Linked DNA regions of Homo sapiens: regions 2, 3 and 4 are each linked to region 1. Evidence: fine-mapped expression QTL. A gene starts in region 1. Each other region holds a variant in brackets. All regions are shown on one strand. Distances are from middle to middle.

What was found.
Region 2: its variant is fine-mapped to the expression of TTC5 in whole blood (TOPMed, PIP above 0.99).
Region 3: its variant is fine-mapped to the expression of TTC5 in monocytes (BLUEPRINT, PIP 0.95).
Region 4: its variant is fine-mapped to the expression of TTC5 in whole blood (INTERVAL, PIP above 0.99).

Annotation. Positions count from the first base shown.
Region 1 is chr14:20,301,163-20,309,275 of GRCh38, reverse strand. TTC5 (tetratricopeptide repeat domain 5) reads left to right here and starts at 3,325. Exons shown (of 10, transcript NM_138376.3): 1 at 3,325-3,389; 2 at 7,311-7,443. The coding sequence starts at 3,339. RefSeq lists a silencer at 199-399 and an enhancer at 3,180-3,419.
Region 2 is chr14:20,233,994-20,242,106 of GRCh38, reverse strand. OR11H4 (olfactory receptor family 11 subfamily H member 4) reads right to left here and starts at 2,821. Exons shown (of 2, transcript NM_001004479.2): 1 at 2,776-2,821. The variant T/A (reference allele first, on the strand shown) is at 3,183.
Region 3 is chr14:20,254,749-20,262,861 of GRCh38, reverse strand. LOC124903279 (a long non-coding RNA gene) reads left to right here. Exons shown (of 2, transcript XR_007064057.1): 1 at 1-1,249; 2 at 6,177-6,477. Among named protein-coding and RNA genes, the nearest start is that of OR11H4, 20 kb to the right of the region's middle. The variant A/G (reference allele first, on the strand shown) is at 4,746.
Region 4 is chr14:20,266,724-20,274,836 of GRCh38, reverse strand. LOC124903279 (a long non-coding RNA gene) reads left to right here and starts at 5,942. Exons shown (of 2, transcript XR_007064057.1): 1 at 5,942-8,113. The variant C/T (reference allele first, on the strand shown) is at 4,224.

The DNA.
Region 1 (8,113 bases):
GGGGCAGGGGCAGGGTAGCAAATCTTTTTTCTAGATAGGACTCCCCAGCTTCTCTGTGCTTTTAAGTCTCTGAAGTTGTTTTCACATTATCAACATAACAAACTCATTGGCAGTGGGGAGTGGTTTAGAGTCTGGTTTCTTTGTTTCTATTATTTAAAGCATAAGCATTTTATTAGTCTCAATTCCATTGTGAACTGCTGAATTTTCATCCCTAGTGTGAGAAGGTCACAATAGTATTTGTTTCAATAGATAACTCTTTCTCCCTGTGCTGTTTCTCACTGAGCTGTGGTGTTTATGCCTTAAGTACCTGTGTTATATGCTACATGTTGCTTTGAATTCTGGTATTTATGCATATCTGTATATGTAAGTATGTTAATGTACACTGATATTTTGCTGTATTTGCCAGTATGTTTATGTGAAAATTTTGGTCTTGGAAAATGGTGGGTGATGTGTAGCTTGTTATTTGGGTGTGTGTATTTATTTGTATATATTTATGTATTTACCTTCGTATTGTTTGGAGGTGTGCTTATGTCAGTGAACGAGAGTACAATTTGATGCATGTATGTTCAGTCCCTATTTGTATTTAAAAATAACTCACGTTGATGAAGTTATTTTTTAAAGTTAATTTTTTTGGCATTTACAGTCGGTGCTCTGTATCCATAGGTTCTGCTTCTGCAGATTCAGCCAACCATATATCAAAAATATTTGAGAAAAAATAATATAAAAAAATACAAATTAAAAACCAATACTATATAACAACTATTTGGATAGCATTTACATTGTAGGTATTATAAATAATTTAGAGGTGATTTAAAGTATTTGGGAGAATCTGTAGGTTATATGCAAATACCATGCCATTTTATAAAAGTGACATGAACATCCAAGGATTTTGGTATCCATGAGGGTTCCTGGAACCAATCCCCCAAAGATACCAAAGGAAGACTGTATTTTAAAATAAAGCTACTTCTTTACCTTTTTGTCAACTATTGCCTTGGGTTTACTTATTTAGGAATGCACTTCTGCAGAAAGTTTACCAATGTGTTATTGATCTCGAGATTGTATTAAAATAAAAGATTTATTTATTGTTTTCCTTTATTTAGTGAGTATTTCTGACTATTATTATGGGAATTAAATTGTTTATGCATTTATTTATTTAAAATGTAGAGCCATGATAGAAATTTGAAGGACATTCTCAGTAACTTTATGTCCTGTTAGAGGAAAGATTTGAAAGCATACTGGCTGGAGAGGCAGAAGATCTGGGTTCTGGTTTCTACTTAGTTTGAACTTTCTTGGACTTAGTCTCTGTATCTGTAAAATGAAGGACTGAATTAAGTTATCCTTACAGCCTTTTCTAACTCTTAAATTTTAGGATTGATTCTTAATGGTTTAAGATGTGTTAACAATGGAATTACCCTAAATGTCAAATCCCATTGTTTTTTAGGTAATAAAAATTATACTGAAATCATTTGAAGATATATTTAGTCATTGTAGAAAGGCAATTAAATACCCCTGCTTTACATAATTGAAAAGCAAGTAGTGTTTCCTTCACTAGGAATATAGAGTATAAAATCTCTTAAAAATTATTCTTAATGTGCACCAAAATTATTTATTACTGTTTTTTTGAGATGGAGTCTTGCTGTGTTGCCCAGGCTGGAGTGCAGTGGCAGCATCTTGGCTCACTGCAACCTCTGCCTCCTGGGTTCAAGTGGTTCTCCTGTCTTGGCCTCCCAAGTAGCTGGGATTACAGGTGCATGCCACCACACCTGGCTAATTTTTGTATCTTTAGTAGAGATGGGGTTTTACCACATTGGCCAGGCTTGTCTTGAACTGACCTCAAGTGATCTGCCCGCCTTGGCCTCCCAAAGTGCTGGGATTACAGGTGTGAGCCACCGTGCCCAGCCTCGTGTGCACCAAAGTTAAAATGTCTGAGAAAGAGGATGAAAAATTTTAAAGTTTTAGGGCCGGGTGTGGTGGCTCACGCCTGTAATCCTAGCACTTTGGGAAGCTGAGGCGGGTGAATCATGAGGTCAGGAGATCGAGACCATCCTGGCTAACACGGTGAAATCCCGTCTCTACTAAAAATACAAAAAATTAGCCGGGCGTGGTGGTATGCACCTGTAGCCCCAGCTACTCGGGAGGCTGAGGCGGGAGAATCGCTTGAACCTGGGAGGCCGAGGTTGCAGTGAGCCGAGATGGCGCCATTGCACTCCAGCCTGGGCTACACAGTGAGACTCCATCTCAAAAAAAAATTTTTAAAACATCCCTCCCTATTTTACAGCTAACGACATAGATTTTATAGGTTACAATACAAACTATTTCCTTTATGTTGGAAAATGATTTGAGGAAATGATTTTATGTATATTCATGATTTCTGCCTTGAACGTTTTACTTCTTTGTTAGTTTCACAGAATCAGCTTGAAGCTGTAATTAAAACTAAAAAAGTAAAGCAAAACTGCCAGGAATATTACATGACACTTTAAAAGATTTATTCAGAAGTTTAATATATTCACAAGGTACAAACTTTAAAGTTACAAAAAAGGCATAGAGTGAAAAGTCTACCCCAGTTCCCTGGTCACTCATTTTTGCTCCAGCCACTCACTTCTGCTCTTTGTAAGCGATAGTCTTGCCAGTGTCTTGTGTCTCTTTCCAGAGACTATGTAGAAGCAAATAATTTTTTATTTAAAAATGTTTATATTTGAATAGGTGATACATATAGATGGCAAGAAAATTCAAAAGGGCAGGCAGTGAAAATTTTCTTCGCTCACCCACAGTTCCCCAGTTTCTGTGTTTCCCTCTGCAGAGACAGTCATCCTTTCTTATATATCCTTCTGGATGTTGTCTATAAATATGGAGGCATTGTTAGTGTAGAGCATGGTGGTTTTTATGAGCCATCCCAAGTGTAGTATTTATTAAGATAGTGCATTAAAATGATAAAATTAATCATACATAGAAAATTACTGCAAAGTTTGGAAAAGATTGAGTAAAGTAGCTATTGTACTACATGGCTTTCGAAATTTCAAACAACACAGGTGTGCACTTCTTAAACTCTCTTCTTTATGGAGTATTATAATCTTAGTATAAATAAGTAGGAAGACATGAAACAAGAATATAGAAATTAAGCTGAGGACATTTTGTTTCCAGGATCTGGGAAAGAAAGAAGTTTATGAACTCACAAGTGATTGTAGAGCATCTCTGTGGAAATAAATGGTTAAGTCGGTTTGAAGCAAAGCCCTTCTGGGGCAGAAAAGCCTCCAGAACGCCAGATGTCGCTGTGGTTCCGCGGTGAGAGAGGGCGTGCGTCTCTGTGGTTATAAAGTTGGGGGTGGAGTGGCCGGGAGATGATGGCTGATGAAGAGGAAGAAGTCAAGCCGATCTTGCAGAAATTGCAGGTGGGGCCGTAGATTAAATTCTGTATGTGTTTTTGTTACTCCGAATGAAGCAGGGAGTCCAGTTTATGTACTGCCCGTGAATTCCTCGGCACACACGCGAAGCTGCGTGCGTCTGTGTGGTTACTATAACAACCCTCGAGGGTGCAGCCGCAGCCAGCCAGGGAGCCTCGTTGGAACCTCCTGCTGCCGACCTGACTGCGGTTAATTTCAGTCCTGTATGGAAGAAGATTTGTTGCTCCTAACTGTTCATGTACATTTTTAGAGAGGACGTTGTTTTCTCGATTCATCCATAGCGAATAGCATATACATGTGTGTGGCAGATCTGCATGAACTACTGTCACATGTTGTTTTGATCCCTACAAAAGCCATTTAACACCTTTCTGCTTTGAATTTGGCAACAATCACGCTAATGACCTGCACTGCAAGTGTCCTGGTTACTCCCCTTAGGATTTCAGTTTTGATTTCTTTCAACCTGTGTAATTCCACTTTGGGGTCTGATGCAGAGGGGTCCAGACTCCACATAGTCCACAGGTAAGACTAGTCTTTTGGACTTGGTAGGGAGGCGTTAACTAGTTGCTTGGCTCTTTGCCTTTAAGAACCCATGATTTTCCTTACACCTCAGGAACTCAGTTCTTCGTTCTAAGGCAGCCTGTAACTTAAATATTAGAACTATGACAGGCTTGTAACTTGCCTAAAGGTGTTTAACGCACAAATTTAAATACTGGTGAAATTTCTTTGTTCTTGGGTACATTAAAATAGTAACACTTTTTAGAGTGTTCCAGCTGATTTGGATTAACTTCATTTTATTCCCTAACTGTGACTGGCTGAAATCAGAGATTCTCAATTCTGGTTCTATATTAGAAACATTATTTGTGTATATATGTTTGTATATGCACAGAAAAAAATCTGAAAAGGTATACAAATCAGTGGTTATCACTGAGGTTCTTTGGGGTAATTTTGTACTTTCTTTTTTTTACATGTATCTATTTGAATTTTAACAACTTACATGTATTGATTTTGCCATGAAAAAATAAGTTTCTAAAAACATTCAGTCCAGAGGAAAACAAAACCAAACAATAAAACCAAACAACTTCTTGAATGTTTGGTTTAACAACTAAAACCAATCAATAAGCCCTTCTCTAAAACTCTTAATTTGCAGCCATGTTGATTGCAGGACAAAAGGAAATTGGTTGTAATTTTTTATGAGAATTGTCTTTTCCTAGGTTCATTTGTGGTAAATGTCCTAAGCAGCTTGGGAGAGGATACTTCCGTTATCTTGGGGTGGGGTCGGTGCAGGAATGGAATAAAGGAGTGAAGTAGAGAAGAGGAAAAGGATTAGATAATGGTGTTGCTGTTCATGGAGATGGTGGTAAACTTTGATTTCATTGTTAAAGACATTTTAGTGTAAAAAGAGTGTATAAATGGATATTTCTCAAAGTGTGTTTTACAGACAGTTTCATTACAGTCATCTGGGGTGCCTGTTAAAAATGTAGAATTTTGAGTTCTGCTAAACTGTTAAAATCAGAGTCTCTGCAGGCTGGGTCTTGGATATAATACAATAAAATTTGCAGAGGGTGCTAGTCTGTTCCCTTCATTCTGGATAGGATTTTAAATTAAGTATAGCACATATGTATTTGTTAGAACAGGGATAGTTAGTTAGTTAATTCAATCAAGTGTAGTGAATTAGAGCCTATCATGTCCCAAGTCCCGTTCTGGTGCTCAGGTGTAGCTCGAAACAAAACAGATTAAAGGCCTTTCCATCCTGGAGCTTACATTTCAGTGGTGGAGGCAGACAATAGACAATTAATGATAGGCCACATGATTTTAAATAAGTATGAAGAAAAATAAGAGTATGATATAACAGTAGAGGAGAGAAGGAATGGATTCATTTGGGTTGAGTAATTAGGGAAAACCTTTCTGGAATTGATATTTGACCTAAGATCTAAATGATGATGAGGAATAAGTTATGCAGAGATCTGGAGAAAGTGTCCAGGCATAAGGTCTTCCAGGTGGGCTGAGCTTGATGGGTTTGAGAAACTGCATGAAGGCAACTCTGGCTTGAGTATTGTAGGAGAGAGAATGGTGAGAGGTGAAGTTTGTGTCAGGATGGGTGGTGGTAGGTCAGCTCATACAGTCTTCTAGGTCATGATAAGGACTTGGATTTTATTCTGTCTGCAATGGGAAACTATTTGAAGGTTTGTGATATGATGTACGTTTTTTATAAGATCACTCCCACTACAGTGAGGAGAATGGGAGAGAACAGAAACAAGATGACTGGTTAAGAAGCTCTTGCAGTCCAGGCAAGTAATGAAGCTGATGTAATCCAGGAATGGTCATAGTGGGATGGAGACAGGTGGATGAATTCAGGATGTGTTGTGAAGATTGTTGATTACACTCGAAGGGAAGTGATTATATCTTTCTGCTGCTATCTATTTAGTTTCAGGAAAGAATAGGATATCTGTTATCTGAAATGCTTAGGACTCGAAGTTTTTTGGATTTTGGATTTTTTTGAATTTTGGAATATCTGCATATACATAATGAGATAACTTGGGGATGGGACCCAAATCTAAATATGAAACTTGGTGGCTTATGCCTGTAGTCCCAGCACTTTGGGAGGCTGAGGTGGGAGCATTGCTTGAAATCAGGAGTTTGAGACCAGCCTGGGCAACCTACGAGACTCTTTTTTTTTTTTTTTTGAGACGGAGTCTTGCTCTGTTGCCAGGCTGGAGGGCAGTGGCATGATCTTGGCTCACTGCAACCTCTGCCTCCCAGGTTCAAGCGATTCTCCTGCCTCAGCCTCCCGAGTAGGTGGGACTACAGGTGTGCGCCACCATGCCTGGCTAATTTTTGTATTTTTAGTAGAGACCGGGTTTCACCATGATGGCCAGGATGGTTTCGATCTCTTCATGATCCGTCTGCCTTGGACTACCAAAGTGCTAGGATTACAGGCATGAGCCACCACGCCTGGTGACCCTGTCTTTTAAAAAAGAAAAAAAAAAAATTGTTTCATTTACACTTTATACACATAGGCTGAAAGTAATTTGATACAATATTTTTAATAATTTTGTGCCTGAAACAACGTTTTGACCGCATTTTGACTGTGTGTCAGGTGTGGAATTTTCTACTTGTGGTGTCAGCGTTTCAAAAGTTTCAGATTTTGGAGGATTTCAGATTTTTGCATTAGGGATGCTTGACCTGTAGTAGAAAAGCTTTGCCTGGTGTGACAGGAAGACTCAGAGGCATTTAAGAGGAAAGAGAATATTTATTTGTAAAAAATCCAAGGCAGCCAGAAGATGACTTGACAAAAAAATCAAACTAAACAAAACCACAATAAGCATTTAAAAGAACAAAATGCTGCAAAGATACCAAAGTTACCAAGTTCAAATTGGTATGTTTGTGGTGGAAAACAATGACTCTCTAACATGTTTATTATATTCACAAAGGTTGTGTTGTATTTTCAGATCTCAGCATATGAAAAATCAGGGATAAAATGGTTTTAGTTGAGAAGTCCAACTTTAAGGGTAAATTTCAAAGTGTTATTCTTTGAGGACCAGGACCATATAGAATGATCTTACTAACTTTTGGTTTATCTTAAGTTGCAGTGTTTCCCTCCTCATGACTGTGGTATGTGAAGTGCTTAGTCATATTAGAAGCCCTGCTGAGGCAGGGAGAGAAAATGGTCATCACAATAGAGACACTGGCATGGGACAACATGGGACCATGAGAGCTGGCCTGGGGTACTGGCTGCTTTTCCTCATGATTTGTGGCATTTTAGTAAACCTGTCCACCTGCCTATTGTGCCATTCATAGGTGAGAAAGAGAATTGGTATTTCTAGACCAAGAGCTGGTATGGCTAGCCAATTTCAAGTTTCCCTATCCAGTGATCTTTCCACTTAATGGTTCCATTGTCATACTTTTTAGGAACTCGTGGATCAGCTCTACTCATTTCGAGACTGCTATTTCGAGACACATAGTGTTGAGGATGCTGGGAGGAAGCAACAGGATGTGCAGAAGGAGATGGAGAAAACCCTACAGCAGATGGAAGAAGTAGTGGGTATGAGCCCTAGAGATTGTACAACCCCCATCCTTCAGTGAAATGTGATTGACCTTTGCTCCCTCCTCATTGACTCTTTGGTATCCTATCTGTTACTGCTATAGGGTAGTACAACGTAATACTACTTCTCAGGGCCCCTGTGCAACCTTTCATTCCCTAAGCCACTTTTCCTAAAATTTGATTATAGCAAATGGCATGAAATGAAAGAGCATACTTACTTGAACTATTGCAGTAATCTGACTTTCTGCCTCTAATTTCTTTTACTTTCAAATCCACTTATATAATACCATGGCCATGGCTATCTTTCTAAATCATTACTTCATGCATTTAACCTTATCCTCTCATCTGCCTTTTTGCTCAGGTATCTTTAAAGATTCCTGCTATTGACTAGCTGAAGTCTAACCCCCTTAACCTGGTATTTAAGTGTCCATTGTTTTACTCTGTTTTCTAACCTTATCTCTGACTAATTACTTGTAGAGGAACTTTCTGTTTCATCCAGGTTGAACTGTCTATTCTCCCATGAACATGGCCACATGTACTTCTGATTCTGTGTCTTTGTTTATATCATTTTCTAACCTGGAGGGTCTTTTCTTCTCTCTCTCTGTTTTGTTTTAACGATAACTATTTGTCCTGACTCATCTTCTCTTCACTTGTTAAAGCCCATTCATTG
Region 2 (8,113 bases), 67 kb after region 1:
AAGAGGAAAGCCTCTTGCAGTTGAGATAGAGGAAGGCCACTGTCTCCTGCTTGCCCCTGGGAACTGAATGTCTAGGTATAAAACCCGATTGTACATTTGTTCAATTCTGAGATAGGAGAAAAACCGCCCTATGGTGGGAAGCGAGACATGTTGGCAGTAATGCTGCCTTGTTATTCTTTACTTCACTGAGATACTTGGGTGGAGAGAACTATATATCTGGCCTACGTGCACATCCAGGCATAGTACCTTCCCTTGAACTTAATTATGACATAGATTCTTCTGCTCACATGTTTTTTGCTGACCTTCTCCTTATTATCACCGTGCTCTCCTACTACATTCCTTTTTGCTGAAATAATGAATATAATAATCAATAAAAACTGAGGGAACTCAGAGGCCGGTGCCGGTGCAGGTCCTTGGTGTGCTGAGTACCGGTCCCCTGGGCTCACTGTTGTTTCTCTATACTTTGTCTCTGTGTCTTATTTCTTTTCTCAGTCTCTCGTCCTACCAGACCAGAAATACCCACAGGTGTGGAGGGGCAGGCCACCTCTCCAGACACTAGTGGCAGAACCAGACAAATTTATTTTCTTTCTTTTCCTTGGATGCTTGAGAAGACCTTTTCAGCTTTTGATTTGTTTTTCCAATGTTGATTATGGGTTTTCTAGCACAAGTTCATCAATTTTCTCTTATTTAGCACAAGTTGTTAGAAAAGACATTTTGAGGATAACTGAAAAAAATAAAATTGGTTTAGATGTTTGAACAAAACAAAATAGATTGACTGCTGCATGGAGATACAACTCCATGATAATATTTTAAAAACATCTCTAACGAACGGCAGTGTTTATTTTTATGTTTTTTACACATACTATACAAAAAGGAACTATCTTACTTTTTGTAATCAGATACCATGTAGATGAAATAAGGAAAATGATGTTTTCTATACAAAAATTTAGTTTATTTAGTGAGCTTTTTCGGTGGTGAAAACAAAGGGATTTTCTAAAAGAATCTGAGATGAAATGGGGCTTCATCTGCAATCCTATGTATTAGAATTTTGTTTACTGAAAGGAAGGTAAGGACATTTTCAAATATTTGACTAGGTATGTACTTTTCAGTAGCAACAAGTTTATGTATTTAAGAATTAAATAAAATACACAAATGTGTTTAAACAACAGTAATCTTATACTTGATTAATACTTAAAATGTGCTGATTAAGTCTTAAAAAAGTGGTAGTTTTGGCTGGGCGTAATGTCTTATGCCTATAGTTCCAGCAATTTGAGAGGCCAAAGTGGGTAGATCGCTGAAGTCAGGAGTTTGAGACCAGCTTGGCCAACATGGTGAAAACCCTTGTCTGCTAAAAATACAAAAATTAGCTGGGTGTGGTGGTGCGTGCCTGTAATCCCAGCTACTTGGGAGGCCAAGCAGAAGAATTGCTTGAACTCAGGAGGTGGAGGTTGCAGTGAGCCGAGATCACACCATTGCACTCCAGCCTGGGTGACAGAGCGAGACTCCACCTCAAAAAAAAAAAAAAAAGAAGGTAGTTTCAATATTGAGTTTCTTGTTAAGTTTAGATCTCTTGTCTTGTTTATTGCAGGTCACCAGTCATAACTTTGTCAGAAATGTAAAAGAAAAATGTGAAAGGCAACAAAGAACACAGAAGTTGAAGGAAGGATCAGGTATTCTTGGGAACGAAGATTTGAATCTCAACATCACTAGTTCTTTGGTAGTTTTTAAGGATGCATAAAAAGGGAAATTTGGAGCATCTGAGTTCTAAAGTTGTCCAGCTTTCCAATCAATGCTGAATTTAAAAGGCATTTGTTTACCATCTTCCTTGAATAAGGTGCTCAATAGGTGATTTCCAGATTGTTGTTTACGAAGCATAAATACATCCCTTTCTCTGCTATACACAGGTCAGAGAACAAGTCCAGGCTCAGACTTAAATTGGGAACCAGAATTGTGAGATCTGAGCCTCCCGCCCTTTGTTCTGAATGCCTGCTTGATGAGAATAACAGTTTAGGACATTCTCCATTATACACTGACAACTTTACACTACACTTCGTCTTTTCTACTACCCTACTCTGCAAGTGCTTTATTAGCAGCAACATTGTTTTTTCTGAAGCCTTTGGAGAAGTGTAGATAAGTAATGGAATGATCAAAAGCTGGGGAGCTTAATAGAAAGACCCGAGTAATCAATTTCAGAGTTTTCGCATTGACGGAATAAACTGTTTCCACAAAGTTTTATATAACACCACCCTCCAAAGTCTCCAAAACGCTGTCTGGGAATAGTTAGGTAATTAGAATAGAATCTTCATTATTTTATGACACAAACATACTGTTTCTCCTGATTTTTGAGATATATCATTATTTGAGCTACAATCCTAGGAGACCAGCTCTTTCTTTTTCTTTTTCTTTTTTTTTTCTGAGACAGTCTCGCTCTGTCGCCGAGGCTGGAGTGCAGTGGCGCGATCTCGGCTCACTGCAAGCTCCACCTCCCGGGTTCACGCCATTCTTCTGCCTCAGCCTCCTGAGTAGCTGGGACTATAGGCGCCCGCCATCACGCCCGGCTAATTTTTTGTATTTTTAGTAGAGACGGGGTTTCGCCGTGTTAGCCAGGATGGTCTGGATCTCCTGACCTCGTGATCGGACTGCCTCGGCCTCCCAAAGTGGTGGGATTACAGGCATGAGCCACCGCGCCCGGCCGAAACCAGCTCTTTCATGTACTGTACTCCTTTCCAGTACAAGAAACTACCAACCAACCAATCAACCCACCAGTCCACCTACCATAAGTGTGATAGCTTGATTTAATAGCCTTCTGTTGAATGCCCCTCACTTAGTATATTGTCTTCCCAGGTGTCCTGAGAGAAGGAACACACCACCTGATTATTCCTGGAAAGTAAGATTGTTTTCAGAAAGATGGTTGTTAATGACCATAAAATCATAGAATTAGAAGAAATGGTATAATGATCTAACTTCATTTTACAAATGAGGCTCAGAGAGGGGCATGACTTTTTACCCAATAAATATGTGTCCTGGATTCACATATGGAACTTTTATACTATACTATTATACTGCCTCCTTTGAGTCTTTGCAGAGAAACAGTGCCTAATCAGATTTATAAAGTCAAAGAGACTCTGTAGCATATCATAGCAGTGGTTTCTTACCTACAATCATGGCTTTTCTGGCTCAGT[T/A]TGGAGACAGCGGTGCGCACGGCAGAAATGAGGCAGAATTGAGCATAACCTCAGCATCAAGCATCTCCTCTTCACTGGCTCTGTTGAGGAAAACTCCAGGTGAGGGCATTATATGTGGTTTATTGCCCTGCCTTCATTCCTGGAGACTCCAGAGGCTTTTCTCAGAATTTGCTGAGAGGTTTAACATGCGAATCAGTATTACATCTATGTTTTCACTCAGGGATTACTGTAAAGCCCTGTGTTTCTCCCCATATGGTTTCAGTGGCTTACCCAAGTTTCCCTGGAGTGCGTTCTCTTTCCAACACTGGGGCTCATCTATAATATATACAATAGATAGTATATATATATTTATATATAATAGATAGTATATATATTTATATATAATATATATACTATATATAGATTATATATAATATATAATAAATATATATAATTTATATAATATATGTAATATATATAATATATATTTATAATAAATATATATAATGTAATATTATATATAATATTATATACTATATATTATATATAGTATATATTTATATACTATATAGTGTATGTTATACATAGTATATATTTATATAGTATATATATTTATATATTTATATAATTATATTTTTATATATTTATAAATTATATATTATATTTATATAGAATATATAATTATATATTATATATTTATTTATATATAAATATATAAATTTATATATTTATTTATATATAAATATATAAATTTATATATTATAAATTAAGAATTATATAATTATATAATTATAATTATATAATTTAGATAATTATACTATATATTTATATAGTATATATTTATGTAGCATATATATACCATCTATTATATATACTATATAAATATACATAGTATATATTTATATATAATATATATTATATATAATATATATAATATATATAATATGTATATAATATGTATTATATATAATATATAATATATTATGTATAATACGTATTATATATAATATATAATATATTATATATAATATGTAATATATTTATATATATAATATGTAATATATAATATATTCTATATTATATATAATATATTCTATATTATATATAATATATTCTATATTATATATAATATATTCTATATTATATATAATATATTCTATATTATATATATAGTATATATATAGTATATATATATATATAGTATATATACTATATATAATATAGTATAAATAGTATATATACTATATATACTATATAGTATGTATAGTATATATAGTATATATATTTATATTAAAGATATATACTATAAAGTATATATATTTATATTAAAGATATATACTATAAAGTATATATCTTTATATACTTTATATATATTATATATAATATATTATATATATTTGATAATATATATATTTTAAATATATTATATATATAATATATGTATATAAATATAAATATAAATATATAAAATATATATAGATATATTTATATCTATATGAATATATACTATATAGTATATGTATAATATATAGTATATATTTTATATATGCGATATATAATATGTAGTATATATTTTATATATGTGGTATATAATATATAGTATATATTTTTTATATGCTACATATAATATATAGTACATATTTTATATGTGCCACATATAATATATAGTACATATTTTATATGTGCCACATGTAATATATAGTACATATTTTATATGTGCCACATGTAATATATAGTACATATTTTATATGTGCCACATGTAATATATAGTATATATTTTATATGTGCCACGTGAAATATATAGTATATATTTTATATGTGCCACGTGATATATATCGTATATATTTTATATGTGCCACGTGTAATATATGGTAGATATTTTATATGTGCCACGTGTAATATATGGTATATATTTTATATGTGCCACGTGTAATATATGGTATATATTTTATATGTGCCACGTGTAATATATGGTATATATTTTATATGTGCCACGTGTAATATATGGTATATATTTTATATGTGCCACGTGTAATATATGGTATATATTTTATATGTGCCATGTGTAATATATGGTATATATTTTATATGTGCCAAATGTAACATATGGTATATATTTATATATGCTATATATAATATATGGTATATATATTATATATAATATATAATATATATACCATATATTATATATAAATATATTTACTATATAATATATAAATATATATAGTATATATAATATATAAATATATATAGTACATATAAGATATAAATATATATACTATATATTTATATATAATATATAAATATATATACTATATATAAGATATAAATATATATACTATATATTTATATATAATATATAAATATATATACTATATATTTATATATAATATATAAATATATATACTATATATTTATATAATATAAATATATATACTATATGTTTATATATAAGATATAAATATATATACTATATATTTATATATAATATATATACTATATATTTATATATAATATATAAATATATATACTATATATTATATATAATATATATACTATATATTCATATATATACTATATATTTATATATAATATATAAATATATATACTATATATTTATATATAATATATAAATATATAGCTTGAGGAGCCAAGATGGCCGAATAGGAACAGCTCCGGTCTAGAGCTCCCAGCGTGAGCGACGCGGAAGACGGGCCATTTCTGCATTTTCATCTGAGGTACCGGGTTCATCTCACTAGGGAGTGCCAGACAGTGGGTGCAGGTCAGTGGGTGCGCGCACCGTGCGTGAGCCGAAGCAGGGAGAGGCATTGCCTCACTTGGAAAGCGCAAGGGGTCAGGGAGTTCCCTAAGTCAAAGAAAGGGGTGACGGACGGCACCTGGAAAATTGGGTCACTCCCACCCGAATACTGCGTTTTTCCGACAGGCTTAAAAAATGGCACACCACGAGATTATATCCCGCACCTGGCTCGGAGGGTCCTACGCCCACGGTGTCTCGCTGATTGCTAGCACAGCAGTCTGTGATCAAACTGCAAGGCGGCAGCGAGGCTGGGGGAGGGGCGCCCGCCATTGCCCAGGCTTGCTTAGCTAAACAAAACAGCCGGGAAGCTCGAACTGGGTGGAGCCCACCACAGCTCAAGGAGGCCTGCCTGCCTCTGTAGGCTCCACCTCTGGGGGCAGGGCACAGACAAACAAAAAGACAGCAGTAACCTCGGCAGACTTAAATGTCCCTGTCTGACAGCTTTGAAGAGAGCAGTGGCTCTCCCAGCACGGAGCTGGAGATCTGAGAACGGGCAGACTGCCTCTTTAAGTGGGTCCCTGACCCCTGACCCCTGACCCCTGAGCAGCCTAACTGGGAGGCACCTCCCAGCAGGGGCACACTGACACCTCACACGGCAGGGTATTCCAACAGACCTGCAGCTGAGGTTCCTCTCTGTTAGAAGGAAAACAAACAGAAAGGACATCCACACCAAAAACCCATCTGTACATCACCATCATCAAAGACCAAAAGTAGATAAAACCACAAAGATGGGGAAAAAACAGAATGGAAAAACTGGAAACTCTAAAAAGCAGAGTGCCTCTCCTCCTCCAAAGGAATGCAGTTCCTCACCAGCAACGGAACAAAGCTGGATGGAGAATGACTTTGACGAGCTGAGAGAAGAAGGCTTCAGATGATCAAATTACTCTGAGCTACGGGAGGACATTCAAACCAAAGGCAAAGAAGTTGAAACCTTTGAAAAAAATTTAGAAGAATGTATAACTAGAATAACCAATACAGAGAAGTGCTTAAAGGAGCTGATGGAGCTGAAAACCAAGGCTCGAGAACTACGTGAAGAATGCAGAAGCCTCAGGAGCCGATGTGATCAACTGGAAGAAAGGGTATCAGTGATGGAAGATGAAATGAATGAAATGAAGCGAGAAGGGAAGTTTAGAGAAAAAAGAATAAAAAGAAATGAGCAAAGCCTCCAAGAAATATGGGACTATGTGAAAAGACCAAATCTATGTCTGATTGGTGTACCTGAAAGTGATGGGGAGAATGGAACCAAGTTGGAAAACACTCTGCAGGATATTATCCAGGAGAACTTCCCCAATCTAGCAAGGCAGGCCAACGTTCAGATTCAGGAAATACAGAGAACACCACAAAGATACTCCTCGAGAAGAGCAACCCCAAGACACATAATTGTCAGATTCACCAAAGTTGAAATGAAGGAAAAAATGTTAAGGGCAGCCAGAGAGAAAGGTCGGGTTACCCTCAAAGGGAAGCCCATCAGACTAACAGCAGATCTCTCGGCAGAAACCCTACAAGCAGAAGAGAGTTGGGGCCAATATTCAACATTCTTAAAGAAAATAATTTTCAACCCAGAATTTCATATCCAGCCAAACTAAGCTTCATGAGTGAAGGAGAAATAAAATACTTTACAGACAAGCAAATGCTGAGAGATTTTGTCACCACCAGGCCTGCCTTACAAGAGCTCCTGAAGGAAGCACTAAACATGGAAAGGAACAACTGGTACCAGCCGCTGCAAAATCATGCCAAAATGTAAAGACCATCGAGACTAGGAAGAAACTGCATCAACTAACGAGCAAAATAACCAGCTAACATCATAATGACAGGATCAAATTCACACATAACAATGTTAACTTTAAATGTCAATGGACTAAATGCTCCAATTAAAAGACACAGACTGGCAAATTGGATAAAGAGTCAAGACCTATCAGTGTGCTGTATTCAGGAAACCCATCTCACGTGCAGAGTCACACATAGGCTCAAAATAAAAGAATGGAGGAAGATCTACCAAGCAAATGGAAAACAAAAAAAGGCAGGGGTTGCAATCCTAGTCTCTGATAAAACAGACTTTAAACCAACAAAGATCAAAAGAGACAAAGAAGGCCATTACATAATGGTAAAGGGATCAATTCAACAAGAAGAGCTA
Region 3 (8,113 bases), 46 kb after region 1:
TTGGAACTTTGGCTGATGCAACAGTTTGAGTCACTGTCTCTCTGTGCTGTGGGATCCACTCACTTTTAATGGGGAGTTGATGGAATCACTCCTCCCTCCCCCACCCTGACTTCCTCCTCTAATTGGCTCTCAGGGGACTCCAACTCCTGCTAATCAACCATGGCAGAGCTGCTGCAGAGAGCCCGAAACTGGCACTCAGGGACCTAGGTTCTGTTGTGACTCTGCTCCTTCAACTTTCTTTTCTAATCTGTTAAAACAACTTTGCCTTTGGATTAGGCCTGGGAGAATGGGGTTCCTTTGGGCATTGCCTTTGCAGAGACAGTTTTAATAATGCCAGCATCTTCTAGACTTTGCCAACTATTGTGTTCAGCTTGAATCTTTTTATTCATGGTGGCAGAGAGGGGAAAAGATTAGGTATCTGTTTCATGTGTCCACAGTGGGGGAGGCAAATGATAGGAGAAAAGAGAAGATGAAAGAGCATATCATTTGAGGAATGTGAGCCTCAACATATTGGTCCACATACTGCTTCTCTATTAGCAAAAGGCCTTGTGGAAAACTTACCTTGTCTGCTTCTGTTTGTCACTGCCCAGAGGAAAGTAAACCTAGTTGTGCAGCTTTGGCCAATATTATTATTGGGTTACATTTAAAAAAGTTATTTTAAAAATAGGCTTTGTCTTTTAAAGCAGTTTCAGGTTCACAGCAATATTGAATAGAAAGTACAGAGGGTTTCTATATACCTCTTCACCAACCTTATGCCCAACCTTCCCCATTATCAATGTCCCATCCCAGAGTGGTACACTTCCTATAATTCATGAGCCTACATTGACACATCCTTATCACTCCAAGTCCATGGTTTATATTGGAGTTCACTCTTAGTGTTGTACATTTTATGGGTTTTGACAAATGTATACTGACATGTATTTATTAAACTATCATACAGAATCGTTTCATTGCTGTACAATCCTATGTGTTCTACCTGTGTGTCCTTATCTCCCCTCCTCCCTCACCCCTGGAAACCACTATCTTTTTTCATTTTTTAATTAAAAATTTTTTTTTCTTATGCCTCCCAGGGCTTCCTTGCTAGAAACCACTATCTTTTTACTGTTTCTATACTTTTGCCTTTTTCAGAATGTCATAAAATTGGAATCAGAGTATGTACCTTTTCAGGTTGACTCCTTACTCCATGGATTACCTTTCAAAATGGACATTTAAAAATAATTTTAGAATGATACTAAAGCTACAATAGAGGGTAAGTGTATCTATGGCATACCCAAGCATATTTGTGTAACCTCTTTTTTGGGGGTTGGGGGAACAGGGTCTCGCTCTGTTATTCAGGTTAGAGTTCAGTGGAATGATCATAGCTCACTGCACCCATAAACTCGTGGTCTTAAGCAATCCTCCTACCTCAGTCTCCCACATAGCTGGGACATTAGCCACCAAGCCTGGCTAATTTAAAAAAAATTCTTAGTAGAGGCCGGGTGCAGTGGCTCACACCTGTAATCCCAGCACTTTGGGAGGCCGAGGCAGGCGGATCATGAGGTCAGGAGATCGCGACCATCCTGGCTAACACGGTGAAACCCCGTCTCTACTAAAATACAAAAAAAAAATTAACCGGGCTTGGTGGTGGGCACCTGTAGTCCCAGCTACTGGGGAGGCTGAGGCAGGAGAATGGCGTGAACCCGGGAGGCGGAGCTTGCAGTGAGCCGAGATCGCACCACTGCACTCCAGCCTGGGTGGCAGAACGAGACTCCATCTCAAAAAAAAAAAAAAAAATTATTAGTAGAGATGAGGTCTTACTATGTTAACCAGGCTGGTCTCAAACTCTTGGATTCAAGTGATCCTCCTGCCTCAATCTCCCAAAGTGCTGTGATTATAAGTGTGAGCCACTGTGCCTGGCCTGTAACCTTTGTTTTGACAAATGGATAGTATTAAAGGAAATTTTCTTGATACGCAGTTTAGTCTGTTCTTGGACAAGCAATGCAGTAGGTTTGACTTTGAGTGCTTTATTACTAACACTTTCTGGCCAGGCCACAGTTAAGGTCCGGTTGGAAAACACTTGTTGAGGTTTGAATTGTAACCTTTTTACTGGATGATAGGGTATTTTTTAGCCCATAGATAAACTTGCTTAAAAAACCAAGAAAGACACTGAAATCTCAGTCTATACATAGTTTCATCAGTGTTTATTGGGAACTGTGTTCTGGATAAAGCAATCGTATGTATACATTTTTATTATGTAATGTATAAGTGATTTGTAAATTATAAAGATCTCCTACGATACTGTGGTGTCTTCTAGATAGAAAATATATCTTTCTAAAATGTGTGCCTAATTCTAGTGTAGTGTCAATTTATAGTACACAATAAATATTTAATGAATAAACATTATTCTGTTGTTGATTACAATTCTCTGAACGCATATTTTTCTATACCTGCTTACTTTAGATTTATAAGATTAGATTCTCACATTTTTTTCATGCATTTACATATTTATATTGATAGGATAAACAAACAAACAAACAGAAAAAGCTTCATGGTCCTGTTTATCTTTGCTCAGGGCAGGATGGCTGTAGAGGAGGTTACACCAGAATCTCAGCAGATAAATATAGAAATAGATCCAGGGTGATGGGATTTTAGAGCATGGTCCCACTGAATGGGAGAGTACATAGTTGGCCAGTGTGGATACGGAAAAAGCAATGCTTCCCAGGATATATGGAATCCCAGTGAGGGGATAAGCCCCCTATCCTTTTCATTTTCTCCAGTTTTGCTTCTCTTTGTACTCCTTTTCTGGTGTGGTCATTTTCTGTTTGCCCTGCCAGATGGTTGAACTATTGGGAGGGAGAACTATATCCTTCCTTTTATTTATTTGCCTGTTGCTGTAGCACAGGCAAGCAAAGAGGAAAACTTTACTTCCTAAAGTCATAAGTGTTTATGGGACACCTTCTCTAGTATTGGATATAGCCATACAAGGGTTTGAAGATGAATAAGGTCATACAGCTGGTAAGTGGTAAGCCTAGGCTTAAGTCTGGGTCTCTTGCCACCAAGTCAGTACTTTTATGCCAGGCTGTTTTGTGGGGTTATTATGTCAAAGTAGGAAAGTGAAAATAATTGCTTTCTTATTTAAACCCATGAAAATATAATGCAAGAAAGATTAAATTCTGTTTAGATTAGTGAATACAGTGCCTAATTCTTCTTGAGTGTTTAGATTTAATTTTTCAATGCAGTTTTTTCATGTATTTGATGTTTATACTTTCCTGTTTTATAGAAAAATATATAATTGAGGATAAAACTGTGTTAATCTAGCCTTTTAGTAAACCACTTCTTTGGATTTCTAGTTATACTGTTAGAACATAACCAGTGTGGTAGTTTTCTTAATATTATCTTTCAAGACCCTAGGAAAAAGTAAGCAGCCAAAGTCAAACCTCAGAATGATGGCAAATTTTATTCTAAAAAATATGAGAAGATCTTATTAAACCAAGGGGTAAATTGAGTTGGTGGTTGTAGTAAATACTATTATGAAAAATAGAAGGCTGGACATGGTGGCTCACACCTGTAATCCCAGCACTTTGGGAGGCTGAGGTGGGAGGATCGCTTGAGCTCAGGAGTTTAAGACTAGCCTGGGCAACATAAGGAGACCCTGTCTCTATGAAAAAATACAAAAAAAAAATTAGCTGGGCATTGTGGTGTGTGCCTGAAATCCCAGTTACTTGGGAAGCTAAAGTGGAAGGATTGCATGAGCCTAAGAGTTGGAGGCTGTAGTGAGCAATGATCACACCACTGCACTCCAGCCTGGGTGACAGAGAGAAACCCTGTCTCAAAAAAAAAAAAAAAAAAAAAAAATGCTTGCCCAGGGATGGCATGTTTAGAGAACTGAGGAGAGCACAGAATTAGAATAATACAGACAAGTTGTATTGGATAGGATCAACCTCTCAAGAGTGTTCATAAAGTTTTCCTTTATTTATTTATTTTTTAAGACAGAGTCTCACTCTGTCGCCCAGACTGGAGTGCAGTGGCACAATCTTGGCTCCCTGCAACCTCCACCTCCTGGGTTCAAGTTATTCTCCTACCTCAGCCTCCTAAATAGCTGGGATTACAGGCGTGCACCACCATGCCTGGCTAATTTTTGCATTTTTAGTAGAGATGTGGTCTCACCATGTTGGCCAAGCTGGTCTTGAACTCCTGACCTCAAATGATCCACCCACCTTGACCTCCCAAAGTACTGGGATTACAGGCATGAGCCACTGTGCCCAGCCGAGTTCATAAAGTTTTAAAGCTCTAAATATATTCATCTTTAAGAACAATTCTTGGAGGAGAAACTGAATTAGAGTAACTTAATTTCACCAGGATATTATAGAGATTCATCAACTGAACAGACGTGCTGTTCTTTAAGGCAGTGCTTAGAAAATGGTACATTAAGAAAATGATGTTTGACATAGTGGAGTAAACTAGAAGGGATTTGGAGGCATCTGTATAGATTTTGTTGAAAAATGTCTTATTTTTTTATTAGAAGAAAAATATAACAATATGATTAAATTCATAACAAAAATTCAAATGTATTAAATTTTAAATTTCTATAAAATTTGTAAATAAAATATTTTCCTTTTTTTCTTTTTTTTTCTTTTCACTGACCACATCTACTTGGACCAAATTTTCAATAAAAACTTTCAGCTTGTTTATATATATGTAAGTTTATTTATTTATTTATTTATTTAGATGGAGTTTTGCTCTGTGGCCCAGGCTGGAGTGCAGTG[A/G]TAACGATCTTGGCTCACTGCAACCTCTGCCTCCCAGGTTCAAGCGATGCTCCTGCCTCAGCCTCCCAAGTACCTGGGACTATAGGTGCACACCACCATGCCTGGCTAATTTTTGTATTTTTAGTAGAGACGGGGTTTCATATATTGCCAGGCTGCTCTTGAACTCATGACCTCAATTGATTCACCCCCCTCGCCCTCCAAAAGTGCTGGGATTACAGGCATGAGCCACTGTGCCTGGGCATAAATTTTAAATATGTAACTTTTAATACTAGTTTTTTTGCTTGGTTTGGTTCATACAATTCCTGATAGAAACTTCAAGTAATGATCTCTTCAACTTCTAGATAATCACCAGTGATGAGAAGTTTTCTTTGCAATGTACATGGTAGCAAGTGGTAGAAGGTATATATTGCCTTTTCTATATTTTTATATTTTACTATAATAATAGTTGGACATCTTTCTATTAATGAGAGCTTGGATAAATCAGTTTTTATGGATTGTGCTTAGGGTGTGATTATGCCTTAAGTCTCATAGCTCTTCTTTTCCTGTCATTGACAAATGTAATGTTAAAGGGTCTTGTGAGGAAACTTTTAACAGTACATTAATAGTGAATCAAACTTTCTTATATCAAGTATAAAAAAATGGCTAAGATTTCCCTCAAGCATATACCAGTATTGCTCTACTAGTCTTAATAAATCTTCAGGATTCAAATAATAAACCTGACTAAACATTACTAGTGAACCACTGTTTTTTGTTTGTTAGTTTTTTTGAAACAGAGTCTCTCGGTCTGTCGCCCAGGTTGGAGTGCAGTGGCATGGTCTCTACTCACTGTGACCTCTGGCTCCTGGGCTCAAGCCACTTTTGTGCCTCTTGAGTAGCTGGGACTGCAGATGTGTGCCACCACGCCCAGCTAATTTTTTGTTTGTTTGTTTTTGTAGAGATGGGGTTTTGCCATCTGGCCAGGCTGGTTTTGAACTCTTGAGCTCAAGTGATCCGTACACCTTGGCCTCCCAAAGTGTTGGGATTACAGGTGTGAACCACCACACCCAGCCTAGTAAACCACTTTAAGCTTACTTTTTAAAAGTTGTCTTTTGTTTTGAATCTATATACATTTTCAGTACATTAATATAATTAATGTAGGCCTTGGTATTTTTGAATGAGATCATTCAGGTGATCAGAAATATCAGGTAAGCCATTTTTTTAAAAAATAAACTTTTATTTTGGAATAATTTTATATTTACAGAAAAATTTCAAAGATAATATAGAGAATCTCCACATATTCCTTACCAGTTTCCCCCACTGTTAACAACTTCTATTTCCATCTCCATGGTACATTAAGAAGCTAACTACTTAACTAACATGTTGTTAGTAACTAAATTCCAGATTTTATTTGGATTTCACCAATTTTCCATTAATGCCCTTTCTTTCTTTCAGGATCTGATCCAGTGTACAACATTTCATTTAGATGTCATGTCTCTCCATCCGAGTCTGTGAAAGTTTCTGTCTTTTCTTGTTTTTTTTATGACCTTGACAGTCCAGAGGAGTATTGTGTAGAATGATCCCCATTCAGGGTTTGATGTTTTTCTGCATGATTAGACTGTAGTAATGGATTTTGGGGAAACAGACCATGCAGATGAAGTGCCTTTCTCAATACATCTGTATTAGTCAATTTTCGCACTGCTATAAAGAAATACCTGGGACTGCATAATTTATAAATAAAAGAGGTTTAATTGGCTCATGGTCTTGCAGGCTTCACAGGAAGCACAATGGCTTCTGGGGAGGCTTCAGGAAACTTTGGCGGAAAGCGAAGGAGAAGCAGGCATGTTTTAGATGGTTGGAGCAGAAGGAAGAGAGAGAGAGAGAGGGCAGAGGTGCTATACACTTTTCAACAACCAGATCTCATAAAAAACTCTTATCATGAGAACAGCACCAAAGGGAGAATTCTGCCTTCATGATCTTACCAACTCCCACCAGGCCCCACCTCCAACACTGGGGATTACAATGCGACATGAGATGTGGGTGGGGACACAAATCCAAACCATATCAGCATCATATCAGAGGTAAACAATATCACATGACATCACTGGTGATGTTAGTCTTCATCACTTGGTCAATGTAGTGTTTGCCATGTTTCGCCACTCTAAAGTTACTATTTTCCCTTTTCCCTAATATTCTTAGGAAGTAAGTCACTAAGTCTAGGCCACCTTTGGGGAAAGGGGATTAAGCTCCACCTCCTGGGGGAGTATATACATACATTATTTGGAAGTCATCTGTAAGGAAAATTTGTCTCCCCTTTTCTGTTTATTTATTCAGTCATTTATTAACACCAGTGTGTACTTACATATATTTATTTCATAGTTTGGGTTATAATCCAATACTACCCTATTATTTTCTTGCTCAAATTGTGCCAGCTGATCTTGAGAGCTCTTTTAGATTGGCTCTTGTATCACCTTCATGTGTTTCTATCCTTTTGAGTTTTGAGTACTTTTTGGTACTACAAAATTCGCTGGGTTCATTCTGTATTTTCCTTGTCCCAGCCCTAGAAACAGTCATTTCTTGAAGGAGCCCTACTACCTTTTATTGGAGAATGGTATTTTAAAACCAAGATCTGGGTGCTGAGTGCTTATTGCTTCTAGGCACTTTTGGCAGACAAAACTACATAATATATGTCTTTATACATATATTATGCATGTACATACACGTGTCCATACTTATTTCTATATCTGTGTATATATTACACTAAATATGAATTTATAAGGGTGTCTCTGACTCTAACCAGTAGCACAGAGTTTATTCTTGCTTTGTTTTCTTGCTTTACTGTAATGTCTCTCTTTGATGGGCTGGTAGGCTGCTGAAAGATGGCCATCCCAAGATGTCTATATTATAATTTCTGTAACTTTTAGATGTGTTACTTCACATGGCAAAAGAGAGTTCACATATATTATTAGGCTAAAGATCTTGTAATGTGGGAGTTTATCCTGAATTATCTGGGTGGGTCAATGTCATTACAGGAGTCCTTATTAGAGAGAGGCAGGAGGGTTGAAGACAAAGAAGGCAATGTGATAACTAAAGGGGGGAGGGAGGGAGGGATGGAAGGAGGGAGAGAGAGAAAGAGAGAGAGAGAGAGATATGAAGAGAGATACTAAGATTAGAAGATCCTATGCTGCTAGATTTGAAGATGGAGGAACAGGCCATTAGCTAAAGAATGTAGGTGGGCTCTAGAAGCTGGCAAAGTCAAAGAAAACAGATTCTCCAGAGCATCAAGAGGCAACCTGGACGTCTTTACTTTAGTGAGGCTGATTCTGGACTTCTGACTTCCAGAACTACAGGATAATGAATAAGTGTTTGTTGTTTTAAGCCACTAAATTGGT
Region 4 (8,113 bases), 34 kb after region 1:
GTTTTTTAATAAAAGTATTTAGGGTTTTGTAGGTATAAGATTATATCATCAGTGAACAGAGATATTGTGTTGGTGCAAAAGTAATTGTGGCAAATGGCAAAAATTGCAATTACTTTTGCACCAACCCAATAGTTTGACTTCTTGTTTTCCAATTTGGATGCTGATATAGTTTGGATGTTTGTTCCTTCCAAGTCTCATATTGAAATGTAATCCTCAATGATAGAGGTGGGGCCTGGTGGGAGGTGCTTGTGTCATGGGGGTGGATCCCTTCTGGATGGCTTGGTGCTGTCCTTGAGATAGTGAGTTCTTGTGAAATCTGACTGTTTGAAAGTGTGTGGCACCTCCCCACCACTCTCTGTTCCTGCTCTTGCCATGTGATGTGACTGCTCCCACTTCACTTTCTGCCATGATTGTAAGGTTTCTGAAGACTTCACCAGAAGCAGGTGCTGGAGCCATGCTGATACAGCCTTCAGAACTCTGAACCAATTATACCTCTTTTCTTTATAAATTACCCAGTTTCAGGTATTTATAGCAATGCAAGAATGGCCTAACAGAAAACTGGTATCAGGAGTGGGGCATCGCTATAAAGATACCTGAAAATGTGGAAGCAACTTTCAACTGGGTAATGGGCGGAGGTTGGAAGAGTTTAGAGGGCTCAGAAGACAGGAAGATAAGGGAAAGTTTGGAACTTCTCAGAGACTGGTTCAATGGTTGTGACCAAAATACTGGTACCCAAGACTGGGTAATTTGTAAAAAAAAGAGGTTTAATTGACTCACCATTCAGCATGGCTGGGGAGGCCTCCGAAACTTACAATCATGGTGGAAGGGGAAGCAAACACGTCCTTCATCACATGGTGGCAGGAAGGAGAATGAGAATTCAGCAAAGGGGGAAGCTCCTTATACAACCATGAGACCTTGTGAGCACTAACTCACTATTATGAGAACAGGATGGGGGAAACTGCCCCCATGATTCAATTATCTCCAGGTTCCTCCCATGACACGTGGGAACTAAAATTCAAGATGAGAGTTAGGTGAGGACATAGCCAAACTGTATCATTCCACCCCTCACCCCTCCTAAATCTCATGTCCTCACATTTCAAAACCGAATCATGCCCTTCCAATAGTCCCCCAAAGTCTTAACCCATTTCAGAGTTAACTCAAAAGTCCGAGTCCAAAGTGTCATCTGAGACAACACGAGTAAGTCCCTTTTGCCTATGAGCCTGTAAAATCAAAAGGAAGTTAGTTACTTCCTAGATAGAATGTGGGTACAGGCATTGAGTAAATACACCCATTCCAAGTGGGAGAAGTTGGCCAAAACAAAGGGGTTACAGGCCCCATGCAAGTCTGAAATCCAATAGGGCAGTCATTAAACCTTAAAGTTCCAAAATAATCTCCTTTGACTTCATGTCTCATATTCAGGTCAGGGTGATGCAAGAGGTGGGCTCCCACAGCCTTGGGAAGGTCTGCCCCTGTGGTTTTGCAGGGTAAAGCCCCCCTCCTGGCTGCTTTCATGGGCTGGCATTGAGTGTGCAAGCTGCTGGTGGATCTGCCATTCTGGGATCTGGAGGACTGTGGCCCTCTCCACACAGCTTCATTAGGGAGTGTCCTGGGGGGACCCTGTGTGGGGTCTCTGGCCCCACATTTCCCTTCTGCACTGCCCTAGCAAAGGTTTTCCCTGAGAACTCCACCCCTGCAGCAAACTTCTACCTGGACATCCAGGCATTTCCATACATCTTCTGAAATCTAGGTGGAGGTTCCCAAACCTCAATTCTTGACTTCTGTGCACCCCCAGGCCCAACACCATATGTATGCCACCAAGACTTGGGGCTTGCACCCTCTGAAGCAATGGCCTGAGCTCCACATTAGCCCCGTGTAGCCATGGCCAAGACACACGGCACCAAGTCCCTAGACTGCACATAGCATCAAGGCCCTAGGCCTGGCCCACAAAACCGTTTTTTTCTTCTAGTCCTCTGAGCCTGTGATGGGAGAGCCTGCAGTGAAGACCTCTTACATGCCCTGGAGACATTTTCCCCGTTTCCTTGGTGATTAACATTTGGCTCCTCGTTACTTATGCATATTTCTGTAGCCAGCTTGAATTTCTCCTCAGAAAGTGGGTTTTTCTTTTTTATTGCATTGTCAGGCTGCAAATTTTCTGAACTTTTATGCTCTGCTTCCCTTTTAAACGTAAGTTCCAATTCCAAACCATATCTTCATGAATACATAAAACTGAATGCTTTTAACAGCACCCGAGTTACCTTTTGAATGCTTTGCTTCTTGGAAATTCCTTCCACCAGATGCCCTAAATCATCTCTCTCAAGTTCAAAGTTCCACAGATCTCTAGGGCAGGGGCAAAATGCTGCCAGTCTCTTTGCTAAAACATAGCAAGAGTCACTTTTACTCCAGTTCCCAACAAATTCCTCATCTCTTTCTGAGACCACTTCAGCCTGGACTTCATTGTCCATATCACTATAGCATTTTGATCAAAGCCATTCAACAAGCCTCCAGGCAATTCCAAACTTTCCCACATCTTCCTGTCTTCTTCTGAACCCTCCACACTGTCCCAACTTCTGCCTGTTACCCAGTTCCAAACTCGCTTCCACATTTTTGGATATCTTTACAGTAGTGCCCCACTCTCAGGTACCAATTTACTGTATTAGTCTGTTTTCATGCTGCTAATAAAGACATATCTGAGACTGGATAATCTATAAAGGAAGGAGGTTTAATTGACTCACAGTTCTGTATGGCTAGGGAAGCCTCAGGAAACTTACAATTATGGCAGAAGGGGAAGAAAACATGTCCTTCTTCACATGGCAGCAGGAAGGAGAATGAGAATCCAGCAAAGGGGGAAGCCCCTATTAAAACCATCAGATCTTGTAAAACTTACTATCATGAGAACAGAATGGGGAAAACCACCCCCATGATTTAATTATCTCCACCTGGTCCCTCCCACAATATGTAGGGATTATGGGAACTACACTTCAAGATGAGATTTGGGTGAAGACAGCCAAACCATATCAGTCTCAGATGGAAATAAGGAATTTATTGGGAACTGGAGTAGAGGTCACCCATGTTACACCCTAGCAAAGAACTTGGCTGTATTATGTTCATGTCATAGGGATCTGTGGAAGTTTGAAGTTAAGAGTGATAACTTAGGGTATGAAGTGAATGACATTTCTAAGCAGCAATTGTTTAAGATATGGCCTGGCTGCTTTTAACAGCCTATGATCAGATGTGGGAGCAAAATTACTTAAAGTTGGAACTTATATTTAAAAGGGAAACAGAGTGTGAAAGTTTGAAAATTTTGCAGCCTGGACATATGGCAGAGAAAGAATCCAAGCAGATTGTGGAGCAAGCACTTGCTAGAGAGATCAGCATAGATAAAAGGGAGTCAAGTGCTAATATCCAAAACAATGGGGAAAAAAGACCTTGAAGGCATTTCAGGAATCTCTGAGACAGCCTCTCCTACCACAGGTTCAGAGGCCTAGGAAGAAAGAATGGTTTCGTGGGCCAGTCCCAGAGTACTGCTGCCCTGTGCAGCTTTGTGACAGTGCTCCCTGCTTCCTGGGTGCTCCAGCTCCAGCCTTGGCTCAAAGGACCCCAAGTACTGCTCATGCTGTTGCTCTGGAGAGTGCAAGCTGCCATAAGCCTTGGTGGCCTCCATGTTTTGTTAAGTCTGTGAGCATATGGATTGCAAGAGTGAAGGAGACTTGGCAGCTTCCCCCTAGATTTCAGGGGATATATGAGAAAGTCTGGGTGCCTAGGCAGAAGCCTGCTGCAGAGGTGGAGCCCTCATGGAGAACCTCTACTAGGGTAGTGAGGAGGGTAAATGTAGGGTTGGAACCCCTACACAGAGTCGCTACCAGGGCACTGCCCACCAGATACCAAAATGATAGATCCATCAGCAGCTTGCACCCTGCTTCTGGAAAAGCCACAGACACTCAACTGCAACCTGTGGGAGCAGCTGTGAGGGCTGTACCTTGCAAAGCCACAGGGGCAGAGCTGCCCAAGACCTTGGGAGCCAATCTTTTGCATCAGTATGGGCTGGATATGGGACATGGAGTCAAAGGAGATTATTTTGGAGCTTTAAGAGTTGATGACTCCTCTGCTGAGTTTCAGACTTGTTTGGGAACTATTACCCCTTTCTTTTGGCCAATTTCTCCCTTTTGGAATGGTAATGTTTACCCAATGCCTGTACTACCATTGTATCTTGGGATTAGATAACC[C/T]GCTTTGATTTTACAGGGTCATAGGTGGAAGGAGATGAGTCTCAGTTGAGATTTCGAACTTTGGGTTTGATGCTGGAATGAGTTAAGAGTTTTGGGCACTATTGGGAGCAGATGATTATATTTTGCAATGTGAGAAGGATATTAGATTTGAGGGGCCGGAGTGGAAAGATACAGCTTTCATATTTGTCCCAATCACATCTCATATTGAAATTTAATTGCCAATGTTGTAGGTGGGGCCTGGTGGGAAGTGTTTGGGTCATGAGTGCAGATCTTTCATGAATAACTTGGTGCTTTCCTTGAGACAGTGAGTTCTCATGAAATCTGGTTGTTTAAAGAGTGTGACACTTCTCCTTCTTTCTTGCTCTCACTCTCACCAATAATATGTCTGCTTCTGCTTTACATTCTGCCATGATTGTAAAGGTTCTGAGGCTTTCGCCAGAAGCAGATGCTGGAGCCATGCTGGGACACTCTGCAGAACTCTGAGCCAAGTGAACCTCTTTTGTTTATAAATTACCTAGTCTCAGGTATTTCTTTATAGCAATGTAAGAACAGCCTAACACAGATGCCTTTTATTTCGTTCTTTTGCCTGGTTGCTCTGGCTGTGACATCTAATACTATGTTAAATAAAAGTGGTGGAAGTTGGCATCCTTGTCTTACTTAAGTTCTTAGGTGAATTGCTTTCAACTTTTCCACATTCAGTATGATGCTGGCTGTGGTTTGGCATGAAGGGGTGGGTTGCCCCTCCACACCTGTGGGTGTTTCTCATTAGGTGGAACGGGAGACTTGGAAAAGAAAAAGACACAGAGACAAAGTATAGAGAAAGAAATAAGGAGACCCAGGGGACCAGCGTTCAGCATACGGAGGATCCCGCCAGCCTCTGAGTTCCCTTAGTATTTATTGATAATTCTTGGGTGTTTCTCGGAGAGGGGGATTTGTCAAGGGTCATAGGATAATAGTGGAGAGAAGGTCAGCAGATAAACACGTGAACAAAGGTCTCTGCATCATAGACAAGGTAAAGAATTAAGTGCTGTGCTTTAGATATGCATACACATAAACATCTCAATGCCTTACAGAGCAGTATTGCTGCTGCATGTCCCACCTCCATCCCTAAGGCAGTTTCCCCCTATCTCAGTAGATGGAACATACAATCGGGTTTTATACCGAGACATTCCATTGCCCAGGGAGGGGCAGGAGACAGATGCCTTCCTCTTGTCTCAACTGCAAAGAGGCATTCCTTCCTCTTATACTAATCCTCCTCAGCACAGACCATTTACGGGTGTCGGGCTGGGGGTCGGTCAGGTCTTTCCCTTCACACGAGGCCATATTTCAGACTGTCACATGGGGAGAAACCTTGGACAATACCTGGCTTTCCTAGGCAGCGGTCCCTGCGGCCTTCCACAGTGTTTGTGTCCCTGGGTACTTGAGATTAGGGAGTGGTGATGACTCTTAACCAGCATGCTGCCTTCAAGCATCTGTTTAACAAAGCACATCTTGCACCGCCCTTAATCCATTTAACCCTGAGTGGACACAGCACATGTTTCAGAGAGCACGGGGTTGGGGGTAAGGTTATAGATTAACAGCATCCCAAGGCTGAAGAATTTTTCTTAGTACAGAACAAAATGGAGTCTCCTATGTCTACTTCTTTCTACACAGACACAGTAACAATCTGATCTCTCTTTCTTTTCCCCACATTGGCAAAAATGTCCTTTATTATTTTGAGGTATGTTTCTTCTGTCTAGTGTGTTGAGGGTTTTTATCATGAAGGGAGGCTGAATTTTATCAAATTCTTTTCCACATTTGTTGAGATGATCGTAGGGTTTTTGTTTTTTAATTCTGTCTATGTGATGAATCACATTTATTGATTTACATATGTTGAGCCATCCTTGCATCTCTGCAATAGAACCCAGTTGATCATAATGTATCATCTTTTTGATGTACTGTTGGATTTGGTTTGCTAGTATTTTGCTGAGGATTTTTGCATCTATATTCATCAGAGATATTGATCTGTAGTTTTCTTTTTTAGTTGTGTCCTTACCTGGCTTTAGTATCAAGAGGATACTGACTCCATAGAATGAATTAGGGAAGATTTTCTCCTTCTTGATATTTTGGAGCAGTTTCAGTAGGAGTGGTACCAGTCATTCTTTCTGCATTAGATAGAATTCAGCTGTGAGTTCATCTAGTTCTGGGATTTTTAGTTGTTCTTGGGAAGCTTTTTATTACTGATTCAATTTTACTACTTTTTCAAATTGTTATGTTCAGGATTTCTATTTCTTTCTGGTTTAGTCTTTTGATATAATAGTATACTTTCTCCAGAAAGTTTGTTTATGGCTTTTATTGGATTTATTCCTGGCCACTTTATAGTTTATGCTGCTATCGTAAGTAGTATCATTTTTAAGAATTAAATTTTCTAACTGTGCTTCAGAATAGAAATACAATTAGTATTTTATTTAGTTTTTGCAGCTATAGCCTTTTTAGAACTCTTTCATTCTAATAATTTGATGATTCCTTTGGGTTTTCTGTATATAAATAATGACCACTTGGGGTCTTCTGCAATCCTTTTAGCTTTTGTTTAGTTTTTTTCCCCTGTACTAGTTAGGACCTCTAGTATGCTGAATAGAAATGGTGATAGCAAGCGTCTTTGTCTTGTTTCTGTCCTTAAGGAAAATACTTTCAACATTTTCTTGTCAAATTAAGATGTTTGTTATGTGGCTTTATATACAATTGCTCTTAGACACTAAGTTTGTTATGAGCTTTTAGCAAAAATTTTAAATTTTACCTAATTTATCTTTTTCTATCTAATGCTTTTTCTGTATTTATTGACATGGCAAATGATTGTTTTCTGTTCCTTAACCTGTCAATGCAGTGAATAAGAGTACTCAACTTTCAATCAATGAATCAAATTTGTGTTATTGGTACAAACCTTACTTGGTCAAGATATACGTATTCTTTTTCTTTCTGAGACAGGATCTCTGTTGCAGGCTGGAATGCAGTGGCACAATTTTGGCTCACTGCAACCTCCACCTCGTAGATTCAAGTGATTTTCTTGCCTCGGCCTCCCAAGTAGCTGGGATTACAGGCATGCACCACCATGCCTGGCTAATTTATTTATTTATTTATTATTATACTTTAAGTTTTAGGGTACATGTGCACGATGTGCAGGTTAGTTACATATGTATACATGTGCTATGCCGGTGTGCTGCACCCACCAACCCGTCAACTAGCATTAGGTATATCTCCCAATGCTGTCCCTCCCCCCCACACCCCACAACAGTCCCCAGAGTGTGATGTTCCCTTCCTGTGTCCATGTGTTCCCATTGTTCAATTCCCACCTATGAGTGAGAATATGTGGTGTTTGGTTTTTTGTTATTGCGATAGTTTACTGAGAATGATGATTCCCAATTTCATCCATGTCCCTACAAAGGACATGAACTCATCATTTTTTATGGCTGCATAGTATTCCATGGTGTATATGTACCACATTTTCTTAATCCAGTCTATCATTGTTGGACATTTGGGTTGGTTCCAAGTCTTTGCTATTGTGAATAGTGCCGCAATAAACGTATGTGTGCACGTGTCTTTATAGCAGCATGATTTATAGTCCTTTGGGTATATACCCAGTAATGGGATGGCTGGGTCAAATGGTATTTCTAGTTCTAGATCCCTGAGGAATTGCCACACTGACTTCCACAATGGTTGAACTAGTTTACAGTCCCACCAACAGTGTAAAAGTGTTCCTATTTCTCCACATCCTCTCCAGCACCTGTTGTTTCCTGACTTTTTAATGATTGCCATTCTAACTGGTGTGAGATGGTATCTCATTGTGGTTTTGATTTGCATTTCTCTGATGGCCAGTGATGATGAGCATTTTTTCATGTGTTTTTTGGCTGCAT